2 linked regions of the Homo sapiens genome follow. The protein of the gene in region 1 purifies or fractionates together with the protein of each later gene. This does not show direct contact. Each region holds a gene or a part of one and is shown on either strand. Other genes may lie near its edges.

The links. Proteins that work in one complex are often made in the same cells at the same time.
Region 2: the proteins of ADCY3 (region 1) and PTPRA fractionate together in Homo sapiens (co-fractionation; one large-scale study listed by BioGRID). This does not show direct contact.

What each region holds. Positions count from the first base shown.
Region 1 is NC_000002.12:24,829,732-24,833,237, forward strand, and holds part of ADCY3 (adenylate cyclase type 3), read right to left. Parts: intron 2,630-3,506; exon of another isoform or gene 2,349-2,629; intron 2,019-2,348; coding exon 1,931-2,018; intron 1,095-1,930; coding exon 978-1,094; intron 1-977.
Region 2 is NC_000020.11:3,030,481-3,033,986, reverse strand, and holds part of PTPRA (receptor-type tyrosine-protein phosphatase alpha isoform 1 precursor), read right to left. Parts: intron 1-3,506. UniProt on the Homo sapiens protein: Tyrosine protein phosphatase which is involved in integrin-mediated focal adhesion formation.

The sequences.
Region 1 (3,506 bases):
CAATTGTTAAAGTACAACAATAACATTATATTTGAAAAAAAAGGAAGATAGTGTATATGGTACTACCACAATTAGAGGAGGCCGTGACAACTGACAAGAGAACACTGATGACAGCTCCAGGCATGTAGTGCTCAATACGTGCCCAGTGGTTCTAAACCAATAGATCTGGGCTCCCAACTCCTGTCCCTTTTCCCCAAGAAAGCATTTGGCTGCCCCCTCAGGGAGGAAGAATACACAGGACTGGGACTTAGAACTGCCTCCATTCTGGACTCTGTCACTTCCTGGCTGTGTGACCTAGAGCAAGTGAATTACCTTTTTTTTTTTTTTTTGAGACGGAGTCTTGCTGTCGCCTAGGCTGGAGTGCAGCGGCTCAATCTCGGCTCACTGCAACCTCCGCCTCCTGGGTTCAAGCGATTCTCCTGCTTCAGCCTCCCAAGTAGCTGGGATTACAGGTGTGCACCACCATGCCTGGCTAATTTTTGTATTTTTAGTACAGATGGGGTTTCACCATGTTGGCCAGGCTGGTTTCGAACTCCTGACCTCGTGATCCGCCCACCTTGGCCTCCCAAAGTGCTGGGATTACAGGCGTGAGCTACCGCGCCCAACCAATTACCCTTTTTGAGAGTTAGTTTCTCCCTATGAAACTGCAGATACTGGTACAACTGCTCAGGACTTTTTCACAGATTAAATGAATCAACATACATAAGGTACCTAGCACAGGCCTGGGCACATGGAACTGTGCTCTCGGACTCTGGGAGAGGAGCTTCAAGGAAACAAGTCCATCCCAGAGGCTCCCTGGATGACAGGGACAAGACTCCTTCCACTAGGTGGGGATGATGTGTTTGGGAACCTAAGAGCCACTCCAAAGCTACATGACGGTGGAGGGATGGACTGAGAAACTGCTTGTGTGACCCAAACAGAAGCCCTTCTCCACTGAGAACAGGGGCGTCCCTTCAACAAGGACAGCAGGAGCTCACCATGTCCACGACATTTGCCATCACCAGGATGAAGATGGCGAGCATGGCCCAGGTGTTCCTGGCCCAGCGGGTCCGGTCAATCCAAGTTGAGAAGGCCACAAGCTTCTTAGGAAAGGCCTAGAAGGAACAGAATTTCAAGGGCCATGAGCCTTTGCCAGTCCTTTCTCCTGCGACGTGACTGACAGCAACTCAGGCTGGTCCCGTATTCCAGTCCCAGGAGCCTCAAAACGGACTCTGCCTGGGAGTCACCTGACAGCTGACCAAGGGGCAGAGCTGAGAAGAGGGCGTGGGAGTTCTGACGCTGTGTTGGACCTCCTCGATGTGCCTGTTCAACAGCACAGCCTCCAGGTCGCAGCCCTTTCCACAGCAGACGTGGTGACGAGGTGAGGCCAGGGCAGGAACAGTTTTCAGGGCTGCTCGTCTCTGGCCAGCTACTCCTGCCTATCCTGGCTCCAAGTGACCTGGCGAGCCACCTGTCAGATTTATGTTCCTAAACACTGCTTTACCTTTGTCATTCTGATTAAAAAAAAAAAAAACTCTGCTTGGTACCTCAGTGCCTTACAGGAGAAAGTTTTAATCCCTTTAGTCTGGCTTCTAAGGGCCTTCACCATCGGGGCCAACCCACCTTCCAGCCGGCCCTCCACTTCCTCTCTACCCAGGTTCTTGTTTACCCAGACTCTGCCGTACTCATACGTGCTGCAGCGCCACGGCCCAACAAGGCCCACCACGGCCCAGCCGTGGCCCACCACAGCCTGCCACAGCCTGGTGGCCCAGCCAGAGGGAGTGCTCTGCTGATGGTGAATGAATGGATGGGCAAGTGCCTGGACCGTCCTAACAGAGGAGTGTCTGCCTGTCAGATTTGACAGAAAGAATAACTCCATCACTGCCCAGTTTTACAGGGAGTGCCACTCACTTCCAGAGGCTTCTGAGCTCAGTAGAAAAGTGCCTCTTACCCGGGGAAAGATGGCAGCCAGGGAGCAGATGGTCAGGATGAGGAGCAGAATCTCCCCCACCATGAAGGTCACATAGTTTGTCATTAGCCTGTGACAGAGAGAAGACAATTGGGAGAGGCCAGAGGGGACAGTGAGATGGGGTGAGGGGCTAGGAGAGGAAGGGACGGGGATGGGGGCAGGGGCCAGGGGACAGCGGACAGGGGGCAGGGGACAGTGGACAGGGGCCAGGGGGCAGGGGACAGCGGACAGGGGCCAGGGGACAGCGGACAGTGGCCAGGGGACAGCAGACAGGGGCAGGGGCCAGGGGGCAGCGGACAGGGACTGGGGGCAGGGGCCGGGGGCAGGGGCCAGCAGACAGGGACCGGGGGCAGGGGCCAGCAGACAAGGACCGGGGGAAGGGGGCAGGGGGCAGGGGACAGGGGCCGGGGGCAGGGGACGGGGAGGCCTCTCAGCACAGCACGAGCCTGTACAGCTCCACGCGGTGCCAGGGAATTGCTGCTGCCTGCCGTGCAGAACAGGACAAAGGCCCTGATGAGACGGGCCGCCAGCTGAGTGCCGGCCTGGGAGCGGGCCACTCTCCAGCTGCAGCTGCTGCCTGGGACATTTCCCAGAGAGGGAACAACTCACAGGTGGCCTGGGCACAGCCCAGGATAAACTTGGGCAGGGATCTTAGGAATGCACCCCTGCCATGTCGCTGTGCTGAAAGGACAGAGCACGGAGCAGCATCACTCCCTCGCTGCCGGGGGCTAAGAGTCTGCCTGTGACAGCCACCCCCAGCTTCACAGTGGACACACTCAACACATCCACCTTAACCTGACAACTCCCGGAAACCTGTTCTCTATACCCTCTGCTCACACCCATTCCCGTTTAACCCCTCCCTGGAAGGTGTCCTTGCCAAGAGCCCCAGAAGCCTCCTGGTAGCTAAATCCATGTCCCATTTTCAGTCACCTCTCACCCCTCCTTGAGACACTTTTCTCGCTTGGTTTCTTGAGTCCTTTTCTGTCTCTGCATCTGGACACGCTGCCTTGAGCTCAGCAAGTCTCGTGTTGCAGCACAGCCTGCATGCTGGTGATGCCAGGTTCACGTCTCCAACCCCACCCGCCCTCCAAACTCCAGATCATGGATGCTGGCCTCCTTGGCTTGTGGGCACTGCAAACTTCACGTGTCCCAAAGCAAACTCCTGATCTTTGCCTCTCCACTCTCATCTTTCCACCTTGTCCCCATCTTGGTTAACGGCACCCCCGTCCTGCCAGTTGCTCAGATCAGAAGCCCAGGAGACATCCTCAACTCCACACTCACGCCCCACAACCAATCTGCCAGCAAATCCTGTCAGCTCTGTCTCCAAAATACATTCAGCATCTATCGACGGAATCCAACCACTGATCCTCCTCTATCCTCGGCCTGGCCTGGCCACCACAGTGGCTTGTCTGGGCCGCTATTTGGTCTCACTGCTCCCGCTGTGCTCACTAAGCGCTGTTCTCAGCAGGAGTGAGCCTCTCCAGGCATATGTCACAACAGGGGACTCCTCTGCTCCCTTGTTCTGGCGGCCTCCTGTGTTAAGAGTGGAAGCTGGCAC
Region 2 (3,506 bases), on another chromosome or scaffold:
AAAAGTCTCTAAATTTTGTATACATGGGCGGATTTTCTCTCAAGATCTCTGGAAGACCAAAGAGGATTTTTTTTTTTTTTTTTTTTGAGATGGAGCTTCACTCTTATTGCCCACGCTGGAGTGCAATGGCGCGATCTTGGCTCACTGCAACCTCCGGCTCCCGGGTTCAAGTGATTCTCCTGCCTCAGCCTCCCCAGTAGCTGAGATTACAGGCATGCATCACCATGCCCGCTAATTTTGTATTTTTAGTAGAGACGGGGTTTCTCCATGTTGGTCAGGCTGGTCTCGAACTCCCGACCTCAGGTGATCCACCCGCCTCGGCCTCCCAAAGTGCTGGGATTACAGGCGTGAGCTGCCGCACCTGGCCTCAAACAGGATTTGTAAGACAAGGAGTGACAATGATTTATATTTTCAAAAGGACCAGCAGCTGCCATTTGAAAAACTAAAAGTGGGTTAGGATGAGAGCAGGAGGACCAGTTGCCAGGCCACTGCAGACGAGGCTGCGCATATGAGTCATGCCCACAGTCCCACGGGCAAGCAGTGAGAGACGAGGGCTTGTTCAGATGACAGCAGTTACGCTGGAGAAAAGTGGGGAGGCTCTGCCTGTATCAGGACTCAGTGGCAGACTGGATGTGAGGGGTGAGGAGAGGGGAGGAAGGAAGGTAACTCCCGGATTTTAGACATGAGCAACTGGGCAGAAGGTGGTACTATTTATTTAGATGGCTAAGAGTGGGGTGGACTGGTGTCGGGGGAAGGAGGAAATCAGGAGCCCACATTGGGAAGGGGGACAGGTGACTGGCCTAGAGACGCAGATTGAGGATCCCTGGCATATGGGTTGTACTTAAAGCCATAGGACTGGCTGAGATCCTGAAGGGCTAGTGTGTCAAAAGAAAACAGAGTGGGCTAGCGCCCGAGTCTAGTATACTCCAATGTTTTAGAGGAGGAGGTCACAAAGAAATAACAAAGGAGCTGCCAGGTTAGTGAGTGGGGTGATGCTACGGAAGTAAGTGTTCTGAGGAAGAGGAGGGAGGTACTGACTCTTTCAAATGCTGCTGTAAGGACAAAAAAAAAAAAATCAGAAAAGAGAAATGACCTTTGGATTTGGCAAGAGGACAGTCACTGGTGATCTTGACTAAAGCAGTCCCAGTGGGGCCAAGCCTGGAAGGAACAGAGCGAACAGAGAACTTGCAGGGAGAAAGCCAACTCTTTTTTTTTTTTTTTTGAGATGGAGTCTCACTCTGCCACCAGGCTGGAATGCAGTGGCGCGATCTTGGCTCATTGCAACCTTCAGCTCCCTGGTTCAAACGATTCTCCTGCCTCAGCCTCCCGAGTAGCTGGGATCACAGGCATGCACCATCGCGCCCAGCTAATTTTTGTATTTTTAGTAGAGATGGGGTTTTGCCATGTTGGCCAGGCTGGTCTCGATCTCCTGACTTTGTGATCCGCCCACCTTGGCCTCCCAAAGTGCTGGGATTACAGGCGTGAGCCACCGCGCCCGGCCGAAAGCCAACTCTTTAAAGGAGTTTTGCTGGGAAGGGGTGCAGAGAAATAGGATAGTAGGTGGAAGGGAAAGTGAGATTAGCAGATTTTTTGTTTTTAAAAGATAGGAAATGTAACATGTATAGGCTGATGAGAGTAGTGGTTAAAGAGGGGAACTGCTGATGGAGGTGGGAGAGAAGATGGTTATAGCAGCAACATCCCTGAGCAGGCAGGACGGAATGGGGCCAAGAGCACAGTGGACAGGTGGATTGAGAGATGCAGAAACCCTTTTCCACTGTAACAAGAGAGAATAGAGTTGGTACAGATTTGAAGAGGCTGGTTGTTTGGGGGTGGGAGGATGACAGTGTTCTTGTCTGATTTCTTGGAGAAGAATGAGGCCAGGTCACAAGCTAAGGTGTGAGTATGATGGGACAGGCAAGAGCAGATGCTGGAGGTTTCAGGAAGAAAAGAAAGAGCAATAGCATTGCTAGGTGGCACCAATTACCTCTATGAGATTTGTGGTCATGAGTTCAGTGTGAGAGCATTTGGCACTGTTTTGTGTTTTTGCCCAGTGATGTTTGCTATATCAGATAGAGGCATATAACTGGGTTTTACTAGAGAGTTTGCTATGAAAGTAAGAAAGCATGAGGGAATAAGGAAAGGTAATAATGACATACCACAAAAACTCAAATCAGAAAACTCAAACGCTCAAAAACAGAACTCAAAAACACACAGAGTAAGGAGGAAGGTGAGGACATGTTCGGTGTGACTGATGTTGAGAAAGTGGAGGCATCAATAACTCTAAGGACTTGATGAAGACAAAAATGACTGGAATAAAAGAGAATACTGAGGTGGGAGGAAGGAGGCAGTAAACAGGGCGGATGCCTTGTTGAGATTCCAAGGGCAGTGCAGATACAGGGCAGATGGTGACTTGACCATGGGATCAGGTGGCTGAGGAAGCTGAGGAATAGAAAGATTGAGGATAGATGGATCATCCACATGGTGACTGATGCCTCCAAAAGCAGAGTCAGGAACAGGGGCTCAAAAGGAGCAGTAAGCCAGGTGTTAAAGTCATCAGTGGGTGAGGGACAGAAGATGGGGAATGGGGATTCAAGACCAGTAGAAGAAAAGCTGGGGACTGGAGTTTCATCTCAGATTTGTGTGTTCACGTTACGGCCTCTAGATAATAGCATCTTAAAGAAGTGAAACAGGGAAGGTTTTCTGTCTTTTCTCCTACTTTGTCTTTCCACCAGATAGCATGAAGTCTCTTATGTCTTATGTCTCTTATGAGGTCTAAGGCGGACATGGTGATGGGGACACACAGCTTTGTGAAGACTAATGCTATCAGGTTTCACTATGCTTTAGAGAAGCAGGATGAGGCCTAGGGTTGGGCTAGGCCTAGGGTTGACCCAGCATGGGAGTTCCTGGCACTGCTCTGTCTGCCCAGGCTGATGATGGTCCAAGCTGCAGCTGCTGAGGGAACCCAGGCATCCTGGTGGACCCTTTTGATTAAAATAGAGCAGAAGGAGGCCAGGCGCAATGGCTCATGCCTGTAATCTTAGCACTCTGGGAGGCTAAGGCGGGCGGATCACTTGGGGTCAGGAGTTTGAGACCAGCATGGCCAACATGACGAAACCCTGTCTCTACTATGGAAATTAGCTGGGCATGGTAGTGCATGCCTGTAATCCCAGCTACTCGGGAGGCTGAGGTGGGAGAATCACTTGAACCCTGGAGGTGGAGGTTGCAGCGAGCTGAGATTGTGCCACTGCACTCCAGTCTGGTGGACAGAGTGAGACTCCATCTCAAAAAAAAAAAAAAAAAAAAAAAAAAAGCAGAGGGAGATAATTAAAAATTTTTAATTCCTTCGAGATTTTAATTTGTAAGTACAGAATTTATATTATGGGATCGAATTTTTTTCTCTGGGAACTTAATATTGTAGGTGAGGATGGTAGTGTCACTGTATAAGTGTAGGCACCTTTCATTGCATCATTTAGGCTTAGTGCGTTAATTACTTCTGGGAGCTACAC